2 linked regions of the Homo sapiens genome follow. The protein of the gene in region 1 interacts with the protein of each later gene in a biochemical or structural test. Each region holds a gene or a part of one and is shown on either strand. Other genes may lie near its edges.

Region 1 (7,038 bases):
GCACAAATAAAGCCTCTGTCGGGTAAACACCAAAGCATTTTCCACACGGTACTGCATTTTAAAATAGCTAACTTTATTGTCAGTGAAAAGATAGGCACAAAGTGGATTTAAACCTGCTTAACTTTATTGGAACTAGCTCAGTTGATTACAGAATGGGGTCACAATCATTAGGGGACCACATACATTTTAAACCAAAGGCGATTCTTCTCTAGCCATCTGCCAACCCCAGCTATCCATTTTACAAACACATGCCATTAATCACAAGGGAGGCCAGAAGGAGGTTTCATGGCTCCATGTAACCCATCGTTGCTACTGGAAAAAAATAAACAAACTCCCGACACTTGTCCTACTGATGATGGATGGCACTTGGAAGACATATTTCCAAGAATCGTGGCAGGCTGAAATTGGTGGCAATTAGCCCACAGCTGATACCTTCCTTTGAAAACATTTTCAGTAAGAATGCACACGTTTTAAGTAACATATTCCATATGCACATAAGCAATTGAGATAATAGGAGACTGTGTAGCTAACAGATATGAGAATATAATTGATCAAAGTTAGTGCATATGTATACACTTTAAGCTGCCGCATTATGAGGGTTTAGGCTTGTCATAAAAAGTAGTTTGCACAATCAATCAGTTTGTTCATTTTCCAATTGTTATACCCACCCAACAGTGTAACAACAAAAAGAGAACATGATGGGTCTCTGGGTATCTTTCCTATGGCAGATGATGGCAGATATTTTAGGTTCCTGCTGTCCTATTACCTTGAAGCTCAAAAGCAGCATTAAAAGGAAATCCTTCATTAAATCAACAATCAAGATACATGATTTTAAAAGAAAGCTCAAGCTACTTTTTATTTCAAAAAAAGACTGTTAATAGGAGTTTCATATCAAGTAAAGTTTGTTCTAATGAAGTTTTTCTATACATGGAACACTGGGGTACAACTGAATTAGAAGGTCCTCAGAGATCACCAAGCAGTACAAGCTAAGACAACCTGGTCACCCTCCTTTCCTGAGGTGCCGGTAAAATGCACAGATAGGTAGGAGTCCAGAAAGATCCCCCAAATGTTATATCCACACAACTGTGAAAAGGTGGCTAATTGAGATTTCTCCCATAAACTTGAATTTTTGGAACAAAAACTAGTGGAGATCTTCTGAAAAGGCTGTATCTATCTTCTGCATAATATACTGACATACTCTTCTTCCCTCTCTTGGATGTACAATGTTATTTTAGCAAATTATCGGGGATTGGAAACTGAACAGAGAAGAACTGTCTCTGGTGTGAGAGGGTTCTGGAAAGTTCAAAATAGTACTCAGCCAAGAACTTCTTCCTTTCCCCAAAACACATGAGTCTAAAGAGATGGCTACCACACAATGTGGAATGTATGACATTTGTCACCTTGCAGAATGTGATTAAAATCATGGCTCCCAGAGCCAGCAAAAAGTCTGCCAATGTGTTATAACCATGAAAGGAGTAGGTGAAAAGTGTTTTTTAAATTATTTGGATAGAAAGTAGCTCTCCTGAAGTTTGCTACTTGCTGCTTCTACTATTTGAGTGTTTTTTTCTCCTTATGACTAAAGGGTAGTATGAAAGAGTCTTAACACAACTGCACTTTTAATTTCTATCTGAGATTCACTTTATAACTGAGGACTAATGTGTATGTAACATGATTACCTCATTATTGAAAATGTGAAAGGACTAGCTGAAAATCACATCACCCTCCTTTATGTCTCTACACACACACAGGCACACACACAAAATAATTCCTTTGGAAGATAATTAGGAAGGATACCATTCCTATACTCACAGAGGAACCCCAAAAGATTATCTAAGATACCCAATCTCCTAGAAAGAAGTGGGATTGGTTTCTCAGGGGGACATTTATGTGACTCTATGTTGAAATGCAGATCAGAAAAGGGAAAACCTTTTAAAAGGCACTGAAGGAGAGGCAAGACAGAAATTCAGTAGTTTGTCAAGACTGGACAAGCTACTCCAACCAGGTACATTTTACAAGATACATATTCCCTGGACCATGAAGATGCCTTTTCATAAAATGGAATTTAAAAAAGATAAAGAGTTTCCCAAAATAAGCATGGTGATTGGCATAATGGTTAGCTGTGTTGTATGACTTTCAAAAAGTCACTGAACCTCTCCAGTTCTCAGATTCCTCATCACTAAAATGAGGAGGTAGGGCTATATTGCTAAAGTTCTTTCCCACCACTATGGCTCATGATGTAATATATCAGGCCTACTCTTCTATTAATCTGGTTTCTAACTAAGACATCCCAAAACCTCTACCCCCAACCCTTACCTAACACCCCCCACTTCCCTCACCCTCCCTATACCCCTTAAAACTGATCTTAATGATGCTATCTGCAGATTTCTCACCTTAATGAAGGGCAGACAGGTGACACAGGGCAGGGACCTGTGGCAACTGGCATCCTTCTGTGTCCTTGGAGGCAGCCCTATGGCAAGGCTTGGAGCCATTGCCTCCTTTGATCTCTACCCACATGCACATTTCCTGCTGCTTCCCAAAGGTATTCCAAGATGGTGTCACTGACAGTGAGAAGAGGTAGTTGAGGATACTGCTGCAATCCACCTCTCCCCCGACTGCAGCATAGTACTTTGGGTTTCTCAAGCTATTCCCTTGGAGGTGATAGTCAAAAATGCCTTTTAAGACATATGCTTAGAATTTGACAAACAAAACAAGTTATTTCAAAGTAGTCACCAGAAATTCAAAGCATTCAACCTGTCAACAAAGATCCTTCCTCACTTTGCAAATGATTGGCAATTTGAGACTGGAGACCCAGCCAGTGAATCTGTGCTGTAGAAGAAATAAACACTAAGCTGATTGGTCTTACTAAATGCAAGCAAGCTGTGTTCATGGCTACACACAAACCATGGAAGTCTGCATATAGCACCCCATGCAACTCTCCATCAAGGCCTCTGATGGTCTAATTCCCTAAGAGAGAGGAAGTTGCGCATCACTCAGTTAATGTACTCTCCCAGCATCTGAAAGCAATATATTAATTATCCAAATGCATAAATTACTCCAGAGCATATATATGAATGTATGAACCTCCAGGAGGGAACCAAAAGAATCCATTTCCAAAGCACCACTGAAATGAAGACAAACACAATTCCCTGGGGCAGGGTAGCTGGGAAACTGGAAGAAAAAATTAGCTCCAGTACCCTTCTGCACCCCAAAACTCCCTACCTTTTTTCCAGCTTACATAGCTCCTGAAACTATTCCCTTTTGTAAGCCTGAGGTGAGTGCTTTCTCCAGCTGCTGCACAGGATAGTAACTATACAAAACAGCACACACTCAATTCTCTCTAGCTTCCCACTTCCAAACTACGTGTTATACACTGTCTTCCACACATACTGTGCTCTTCAATAAAAAATGATCTAGAATATGGAAAATTTAAACAAATTTAAGCACATTGAAAACGTCGATGTATAGCCACCTGTTAACAGTCCCAGTATTCGTATAAATTCAAACAATAAGCTTTAGAGCACATTCTGATTAATCTGTCTTTAGAGGTACTCCCTAAGCATACCAAAATAGACTGGTGTTCACATGGTATTACTCAAGTAGTACATTGTTCCAATAAAAAGTCCTGTTAAAAAACATCCCCTCCCCACAACCCTTGTCCTCACCCTCAAAACAAGAACCAATAAAAGGGGGAAAATGATTAAAAGCATTTTTGCTGATAATCTGCAGCTCTTGATTTGGCCGTTTAGATGAGATATTCCACCATCTCTGCATCAGGCTCTTGTCCCAGGATCTGAATGGGAGTTTTTCTTTCCAGAGTATTGGAGTGGAACACAGGCCCATCTAAATGGAAATAAGGGTTAGAAAACACTTAGGGATGAAGAAAAAACCCATATTTCTAGAACCAGACACCATCAGAGCCCTCATGAAGCCAATGGCAAAGTGAGACTTGCCTGCCACCTCCCTCATTTACTTCTGCTAAGATAATGGCCTCTACTCATGCCTGTTCCCATCTTGGTGGATGAGAAGTCATTTACAGACTCTCTTCTCTCTCCTTTAGAACGTGAAAAACTCAGTCCAAATGATAACTCTGCCCAGACATCAGACAACAAGAAATAAATCTGTATTTGAGAGCAGAACTAAACCAAAACCTACCTGCTAAAGGGAATAATTACCTGTTTTGTCTGGATTGCAGGTCAAACTTGGTATAGACAAACGATGTGGTCCAGGACCGGTAGCTGGACTTGCAGGAACCTCAGCCTGAGCCACAGCTGGAGTTGGAGTTGGAGCTGGAGTTGGAGCCACAGCCGGAGCTGAAGTTGGTGCCTGAGTCTGAGCAGGAGCAGAAGCCTGAGCCGCTGCTGGAGCTGGAACCGGAACCAGAGCCGGAGCTGGAACTGGAGCCGGAGCAGCTGGAGCAACCTGAACAGCAGCAGCAGCAGCAGCAGAAGGAGCAACGGCAGCAGCTGAGGCAACAGAGGCAGCAGCTGGAATCTGACCAGCAGCAGCTGGAGAAACAGCAGCAGCAGTAGCAGCGGCAGTGGCTGGAGACGGGGCAGCAGCAGCAGCTGGAGCAGCAGCAGCAGCAACAGCAACTGGAGCAGCAGCTACCATGGTGGTGGTGATGGTGGCAGCAGTGGCAGTGATGGCGGCAGCAGTGGCGGCAGCAGCAACTGGAGCAGGAACAGAGATGGGAGCAACAGCTGCAGTTTTGTTCGATTCCGTCCCACGTTCAGTTTGGGTACTGCAGTCTCGGCTGCCTGTCTTGGAGTGAGCCGAGAGCAGGGGAGTCGAGGGTGGCACAGGCGAGGGTGTGGAAGGGACATATTCAGCACGGTAGTCTCCACCCAGGAGAATGCCTACAAATGAAAGAGGAACAGATGTTAGAAAACAATAGGTGATTCAAATCCAGACATCTAATTACCTGTTCTCCCATTCAAATTTCAGAAGAAATTTATTTATTTTTAAATAAGTAAATATTATTTAAATATTTAAAATATTATTATTTTTAAATATTAAATAATTTAGAATAGTCTAAGTTATTTATTTTTGCCTCCAGGGAACCCAGAAATCAGTGTGTGAGGCTCCTCCAACCATGGCTAAAAGTTTCCTACAGACTTCGAGGATCCCTTCTGGTCCTCATCCATCACCTGGCACAACATATTAAGCCTGTAAGTGACCTGGGTATCTGTTTTGATTTATTTTTCCAATGGTGATTGGGTTCCACCAAGTTGTCAGAATGCTCCTACTCGGCTCCACTTATAAACCATTACCACACGTTACCAGGGAGCAAGAAAGGATCTGGGGAAGAAGTCTGTTGACACAGATTGAGTGTGGTAATAATTGTGTGATCTGAGGTTCTCACCATGACCATAGTCCCCAAAATGCTTATTCTAACCAAAAGATATTACAAGTATCAGAGGACCAAGAAAGGAATTAACAGCAACAAAAAGGGTTAAAATAAAAATATATATAAGCTTCCTTCCTCGGGCTCTAAAAATGTGCCTCGTGGTATCCACAATATGTCTGGGGTTTTGATTAGAGGGGAGGGAATGGACAGGAACGGAATGAAAAAGTACATTCTGTTCTCATCTCACAACACTGTGGGAACAAAACCTGCTACCCAAACGATTTAGTGTAACTAAAACTCTGGGTTCTCCTATTATAGAGGAGGAAGGAACACAGAAATGCCGGAATTTTGACATTTGGAACGACACAAAGGCCACATGGGCTTTGGAGAAAGATAAAGGTGCCACATGGCAAAGGCCAAATCTGAGAATAGTTTAGAGGAAATTAGAGTTATCTTCCTTGACACCCAAATGAAACTCAAGATTCTTGTCCTCTAAGCCTTGGCCTCAATCGGTATTCTCACCGGGAGACTTCAAAGTGTGGAGGAGCTCCAGAATGTGGAACTAGGGTCTCAGGAGGAAAAAAAAACTCCAAAACCCTGGTACACCTTCCTCTCTAGAACCTGGACCATCATCCCTTTTCCTTAAGCATGGGTGCTTATCTCAGGGCTCTCTTTGAACACGTGACTATAATCTTCCTTATTTACTGTCATTACCTAGGCTCCCCTTCCAGCTCTTGTCGTCTCGCTTTTCTTCCATGATGGGGGAGCCAGTCAGGGTGGATGAGTGGGAGAGCAAGCCTGATCCAGCATTGGAAATGGACATCAGAGACTTCGCTGGCCGCATGCACGACAGCTGCTCTGTCTTGCTCGGCTCCTTCCGGGAACGCTGCTGGAGTACTTTGATCATGGCATCCTTCTCAATAATCTGGGCATGGAGGGTCTTAATCCTAGGAGCCAAAGGCAAAGAACATATAAAGACCTTGTTGTGGGCTGGGCGCGGTGGCTTACGCCTGTAATCCCAGCATTTTGGGAGGCCGAGGTGGGCGGATTGCAAAGTCAGGAGTTCGAGACCAGCCTGGCCAACATGGTGAAACCCTGTCTCTACTAAAAACACAAAAATTAGCTGGGTGTGGTGGCAGGCGCCTATAGTCCCAGCTACTCGGGAGGCCGAGGCAGGAGAATCACTTTAACTTGGGAGGCGGAGGTTGCAGTGAGCCAAGATAGTGCCACTGCACTCCAGCCTGGGTGACAGAGCAAGACTGACTCCATCTCAAAAAAAAAAAAAAAAAAAAAAAAACCTTCTTGCTACCTCCACATTTTGGTCTAATTGACTACATGACTACGTGGAGCTCCCATTATCTTTTCGACTAAAGGCTGATCTAGTTAGTTCTGAGTTGGAAAACAAGGGATGGTGTGCTACAGTTTTTAAAACATGTTTTTTCTTTTTTCTGCACACCCAAATGGATACAGCAGAGCATCCAGGAGCTGTTGCTTAAATCTTAGTAAGTCACAATAAAGTACCAGTGAAAAAAAAGGCTGAATATGAGAGAATGAACTGATGTACTAGGTGCTGTAGTGAAGAATCTCAGTCAATGGAAACAATTTACTCAGTGAGAAGATGAGATCTATGAATGAGCGACAACCTGCAGGTAGTAAGTAAATGATCATGTGTTTATAAAAGGAATCAGGTA
Region 2 (7,038 bases), on another chromosome or scaffold:
ACTTGGGGATGTTTAAGATTCTTTCTGACACCTAAGAAATTGTATACATATCAACCCATGCCACTAGTCCTACCTACCTTTAGCATTAGAATGGACACTTCTTCCAGGCAGGCCACATCCCCAGATCCTCATACCCTGTGTACCGCAAAGCAGGTCTTCTGGAAAGGTCTGATAAGTTGAATTGTTTGTAGTAACAAAAGCCAGGAAACAAGCTAAGTGTTCTTTAGAAAGGACTGCTAAAACGAACAACAAACAAACAAAAACATTGGCCAGGCATGGTGGCTCATGTGTGTAATCCCAGCACTTTGGGAGGCCAAGGCAGGCAGATCACTTGAGGTCAGGGGTTCGAGACCAGCCTGGGAAACATGGTAAAACCCTGTCTCTACTAAAAATACAAAAATGAGCTGGGTATGGTAGCATGTGCCTGTAATCCCAGCTACTTGGGAGGCTGATTTAGGAGAAATCGCTTGAACATGGGAGGCAGAGGCTGCAGTGAGCCGAGATCATGCCATTGCGCTCCAGCCTGGGCAACAGAGTGAGACTCCACCTCAAAAAAAAAGAAAAACCCAAAACAAAAAATTTTTTAAAAAATAATAACCTCCATACAGTAGATGAGGAAGATCTATAGTTATAAATGTGGAATAGTCACCTGAATTTATTGTTAGAGGAAAAGGATGAAGTGAAGAATGATGTGTGTACTCTGGAACTTTATTGTATAACAATAAACTAGGGTACATATGTATCTGTGTAGATTTCCTTGCATATGCATAGAATAGAATATCTCTTATAGGATTCACAAGAAACTGGTTACAGTGATTGTCTCTGAACAGAGGAGAAAATGAAGGAATGGGAGTCAGAGCTGAGAGGAAGACTTACTTATTGCATGAATGTTTGCTTATATATTTTTAAAAATAAACATACATTTATTTCAAACTATTGACAGATACGTTTAGGTTTTTATATTTTGCATATGCGCATATATATGGAGAGAGGTGAAAGGAGAGCATGAATCTTAGAATTAAAAATATATATATTTGAACTCTGGCTTCACTGTTCTGCAGTGTGACCTTGGCCAAGGCTATGATATTCTCTAAGATTGCCTTTCTCCTGTTGTAAAATGGAGATGAGAACATCTCCCTTTCATGACGTGTGTGTGTGCGCAGCAGATTGTTGCAATCACTTGTAAGTGAGTTTCCCCACTGCTTTCCTCATGGAATTAAAAATCTCAATTTCTCTTTCTTCCAGCTTCATTCAGATATTGACTCTGGTGATGGGAACATTAAATACATTCTCTCAGGGGAAGGAGCTGGAACCATTTTTGTGATTGATGACAAATCAGGGAACATTCATGCCACCAAGACGTTGGATCGAGAAGAGAGAGCCCAGTACACGTTGATGGCTCAGGCGGTGGACAGGGACACCAATCGGCCACTGGAGCCACCGTCGGAATTCATTGTCAAGGTCCAGGACATTAATGACAACCCTCCGGAGTTCCTGCACGAGACCTATCATGCCAACGTGCCTGAGAGGTCCAATGTGGGTGCGTACGGTGTGGGAGGCCTGCTCTGCTTCCAGGCCTGGTGTCTCTGTGGTGGGTGGGCTGAAGCCCGTTCTCCCAAATCAGGAAGTAGAGCTTCTTCTTTATCTTTTATGGCAAAATAACAAAAGGAACAAAAATTCTTTTGTTCCTCTGTAAAATGGGAATAACAATTTCTAGTCTTGTAGGAATAGAGATAATATACATCCAGTCGCTAGTGCGTATTGATGTCTAATAGGTAATGACACTGGTAATATCTGTTGCCTGTAGACATTGTGCTAATTAATGACTTACATGCACTATTTTATTTAGCTTTTGCAATGATTAATCTTTACAATGAGGTAATTCCAACTCACCGTATTTCACAGATAGGAAACCCATGCCAGAAACAAGCTAACTAATTTCTGTAGGGACATTTGAGCTATTAAATGGATCTAAAATGCACATTTAACCACAGCACTATGTCACTATGTTCAGAAGTACGTATATCTTTTCAACATGCTTGAAGACACATTAAGTTGCTAAAGGATAATTTTTTAAAGGATTTATTCAAAGAATTAGCCACCTTCTGGCAATAGCCTTCTTTATAACATGCACATAATGAAACATTTGCATAATGTTTCTTTTGAGAAACATTCCTCATATTAAGAAAGGTTTGTCTTTCAAACAGTGAGTAGAACTGTTCTAATCAGGGAGTGAGTCTGCTTAAAAGAGTTTTAGAGCTCAAATGAATTCAGGAACATTTTACAGATGAGAAAATCCAGCAAGTATAGGAATCAACCTACTTAAGAAAGATAGGTTTGACTCTAGAACGCTAAGATCCTTCCACTGTGCATACAGAGCTTTTTATGCCAGAAAATGGTATATTCCTTCTCCACCAGGAAAAGTCAAGTACTTATCAAAAGCCAGCCTGAACCATTTCCCACCTTTGTCTCTTCCATTTTCCCTGCCCAGTCCTTCAGCCTCTTGGTGTTTAGCCTGTGTATTATAATGAGAAACAACAAATATCAAATAAATCCATACAGAGGAAACAGCAGTGTCAGCAACTGAGTGTCAAGGGTGGGGATGGGGTGGAAAGGCAAATCATCAAAATATATAATCCAGGAAAATTTTCATTATTCTCACCTTTGCGGGCTCATTGATGTTTAGGGATAAAATTCAGGCTTTTTTTTTTTTTTTAGTTTCAACTTTTATTTTAGATTCAGGGGGTACATGTGCAGGTTTGTTTATTTATTTATTTATTTATTTATTTATTTATTTATTTTGAGACAGAGTCTCCCTCTGTTACTCAGGCTGGAGTGCCGTAATGCCATCTTGGCTCACTACAACCTCTGTCTCCCGGCTTCAAGCAATTCTCCTGCCTCAGCCTTCTGAGTAACTGGGATTACAGGAGCGCGCCACCACGCCCGGCTAATTTCTTTGTATTTTTATTACGGACGGGGTTTCACATGTTGTTCAGGCTGGTCTTGAACTCCTGACCTCAAGTGATCCACCCACCTCAGCCTCCCAAAGTGCTGAGATTACAGACGTGAGCCACCGTGCCCGGCCCATGTGCAGGTTTATTGAGTGAATATACATGAATATACTGTGTAACACTGAGGTTTGTGGTATGAATGACCCCATCACTCAGGTAGTGAACAGAGTAACCAACAGATTTCGGCACTTGTCCTCTGGCTCCACTCTAGTAATCCTGTGTTTATTATTCCCACTGGGTAAACATTGGGTTCATTTATACCTCCAGTTATAAATGAAAGCATGTGGTATTTGGTTTTCTGTTCCTGTGTCAATTTGCTCAGGATAATGGCCTCCAGCTGCATCCGTGTTGATGCAAAGGCATGATATTATTCATGCCACCATGCATAGTATTCCATGGTACATATACACCACATATTCTTTATCCAATCCACTGTTGATGGGCACCTTGGTTGACTCCATGTCTTCGCTATTGTGAATAGTGCTGCAATAAATATACAAGTGCAGGCGTTTTTCTTGTAGAACGATTTATTTTCCTTTGGGTCTATAAAGAGTAATGGGATTGCTGGGTTGAATTGTAATACTTTTTTTTTTTTTTTTCTGAGACAGAGTCTCGCTCTGTTGCCCAGGCTGCAGTGCAGTGGCACGATCTCGGCTCACTGCAATCTCTGCCTCCTGGGTTCAAACGATTCTCCTGCCTCAGCCTCCTGAGTAGCTGGGATTACAGGCGCCTGCCACCACACTGGCTAATTTTTTTGTATTTTTAGTACACAGGGGTTTTGCCATGTTGGCCAGGCTGATCTGGAACTCCAGACCTCAGGTGATCTGCTCACCTCGTCCTCCCAAAGTGCTAGGATTACAGGCATAAGCCACCGTGCCCAGCCTTGAATTGTAATTCTGTTTTTTTTGAGACTTCTCCAAATTGCTTTTCAGAGTGACCTAATGTACATTCCAACCAGCAGTGTATATGTGTTCCCTTTTCTCCACATCCTCACCAGCATGTTATTTTTTGACTTTTTAATCATAGCTATTCTAACTAGTGGGAGATGGTTTCTCATTATGGGTTTCATTTACATTTCTCTGATGTTTAATGACGACCAATTTTTTTATATTTGTAAGCCATTTGCATATCTTCTTTTGCTAAGTGTCCATCCATGTCTTTTGCCCACTTTTGCCCACATTGTTTTTTTACTTGTTGAATTGTTTAAATTCCTTATAGATTCTGGATACTAGACCTTTGTTGGGTGTGTAGTTTGTGAATATTTTCTCCCATTCTGTAGGTTGTCTCTTTACTCTGTTTATAGTTTCCCTTTGTTGTGCAGAAGCTCTTTAGTGTAATTAGGTCCTGCTTGTCAATTTTTATTTTTGTTGCAATTTCTTTTGAGGACCTAGTCATAAATTCTCTCCCAAGGCCAATGTCCAGAATGGTGTTTCCTGGGTTTTTTTCTCTAGGGCATTTATAGTTTGAGGTCTTACATTTAAATCTTTAATTCATCCTGAGTTAATTTTTGTATATGGGGAAAGGTAGGGGTCCAGTTTCACTCTTCTGCATGAGGCTAGCCAGCTATCCCAGCATTATTTATTGATTAAGGAGTACTTTCCTCATTGCTTAATTTTGTCAACTTTGTTGATGATCAGATGGCTGTAGGTGTGTGGCTTTATTTCTGGGTTCTCTATTCTGTTCCACTGGTCTATGTGTCTGTTTTTGCACCAGCAACATGCTATTTTGGTTACTGTAGCCTTGTAGTATAGCTTGAAGTTGGGTAAGGTGACTCCTCCAACTTTTTTCTTTTTGCTTAGGATTGCTTTGACTATTCGGGCTCTTTTTTGGTTCCATATGAGTCTTAGAACAGTTTTTTTTTCTAATTCTGTGAAAAAATGATGTTGCTAGTTTGATAGAAATAGCATTGAATCAGTAGATTGCTTTGGGCAGTGTAGCCATTTTAATGATATCAAATGGGAAAACATTCTATGCTCATGGGTTGAAAGAATCAATATCATTGAAAGGATCAATATTCCATTTGTTTGTGTCATCTATGATTTCTTTCAGCAGTGTTTCGAAATTCTCCTTGTACAGATCATTTACCTCCTTGGTTAGATGTATTCCTAGGATTTTATTGTTTTGTGGCCCTTGTGAATCGCACTGTATTCTTGATTTGGTCCTCAGCTTGAGTGTTATTGATGTATAGAAATGCCGTTGACTTTTGTACCTTGATTTTGTATTCTGAAGCTTCACTGAAGTTGTTGATCAGTTCTAAGAGCCTTTTGGCAGAGTCTTTAGAGTTTTCTAGGTATAGAATCATATCATTAGTGAAGAGAAATAATTTGACTTCTTCTTTTCCTATTTCGATGTCTTTTATTTCTTGCTCTTGCCTCATTGCTCTGATTAGGACTTCCAGTACTATGTTGAATAGGACTGGTGAGAGTGGGCATCCTTGTCTTATTCCTGCTCTGAAGGAGAATGCTTCCAGCTTTTGCTCATTCAGTGTGATGCTGGATGTGGCTTTGTCATGGATTGCTCTTATTATTTTGAGAACTCAGACATTGTATTATGGCATATGACAGTACAGTCGTTGTTGTCAGACAGTACTATGAATCATGGCTGTACTCCTAATCAGCCTTACGAACCCAGGCAACCTATTATACCTTTCTAAGTTTTTATTTTGCCATCTATAAAATGAGGATAATATAAACTATGTTGAAGGTTAAATGAAATAGATGTGAAATACAAAACCATTGTAAAGGATGTAGCAGAGTTCTAGAAGGAAATTAAGCATTTAAAATTAATAATTTCCCTAGCCACACCATGATGGTATTTTCCTTTATAAATCTATCCTGCCTAGAATAGTGACTGACAAATGGGAAGAGCTCCAAAGAGATTGTTTCTATGAAATAATGAATTATAGAAGAGTAACTAGAAAAAAGTGAGATGTACACCACACAAAAATCACTGACAATCCTATAAATTAAAGGTAGTGATAGGCTGTGTAAACTGGCTCCCTTGCCTCCCACATAGAACCTTGCCCCTCTGCTGAAAATGTTACAGAAATAACTTGAGTTTTGTTGTGTGCTGGATTGGGGTTAGACTTTGGCAATTACCAACTTTGTGAAATAGATTACAAAGCTTCATATATCTCAAGTTCAATTTCTCACTAATACAGTAGATGTAAAAAATGCCCAGCAGAGGAATGCTGGCAAAATACATGGAATGTGCCCCCAGATCATGCTGGCACAGAGAAATTCGATAATTACTGGTTTTCTTCTTCCAGCTCCTCTCTCCCCACTCTGAAGCCCAACATGCCATGCCCCAGATACTTGCTATTTGTGACCAGCCAGGAACAAAGGTTGTTTTTAGGAAAAGCAGAACCCCATCTTTCTTCAATTTCCTGGTTTCCCTTCGTTCTGACCCATGAATGCTTCCCTTACCTCTCACCAGATGTTTACTGGTGATTTCTGTTATATGGCTACCAGACCAGCTACAGGTGGGAAGATGCAATTTTCATGCCAGTAGGGAACAGCATTCTGCTCAGTATTTATGGCCATAAATTAATTAAATTGTAGAATTAGCAGCAATTTTATTACATGCAAAGCAACAATAAAATGATGTATTTATTGTTCTGCTACAGATGGAAGATTGCACTCTGTCCTTTCCTGAAAGCAATTTATCGTTAATTATCATTTATTATACTCTGGGAAGATTTTAATGTAATTATTTGATATACTGAACATTTCAAGTGCATGAGTTGTAAGATATTTTTGCAATAATATTTATAATATTATTTTAATCACCAACCAATGTAGGATGTACTATAAATACAGAAAGTTCATTTTTAAACTGTGGCCATTTTTATAGAGCAGGAAGGAAGGAAGGAAGGAAGGAAGGAAGGAAGGAAGGTTGGTTGGCTGGTTATTTTGCATCTCAACTCCAGGAAAATGAGAGAATGTTGAATAATTGTGGTGCCTTCTTCAGGGTTAATTTTAGAATAAAACTTTGTAAACAAGAACATAATTTGAAAATCTGAGGAGAT

Evidence for each region. Proteins that work in one complex are often made in the same cells at the same time.
Region 2: the proteins of AMOT (region 1) and CDH11 form a complex in vitro, tested with the Homo sapiens proteins (one study listed by BioGRID).

What each region holds. Positions count from the first base shown.
Region 1 is NC_000023.11:112,774,825-112,781,862, forward strand, and holds the end of AMOT (angiomotin), read right to left. Parts: intron 6,295-7,038; coding exon 6,062-6,294; intron 5,965-6,061; exon of another isoform or gene 5,894-5,964; intron 4,857-5,893; coding exon 4,173-4,856; intron 3,841-4,172; coding exon 3,743-3,840; 3' UTR 53-3,742; downstream 1-52.
Region 2 is NC_000016.10:64,993,064-65,000,101, reverse strand, and holds part of CDH11 (cadherin-11 isoform 1 preproprotein), read left to right. Parts: intron 1-1,245; coding exon 1,246-1,540; intron 1,541-7,038. UniProt on the Homo sapiens protein: Cadherins are calcium-dependent cell adhesion proteins. They preferentially interact with themselves in a homophilic manner in connecting cells; cadherins may thus contribute to the sorting of heterogeneous cell types.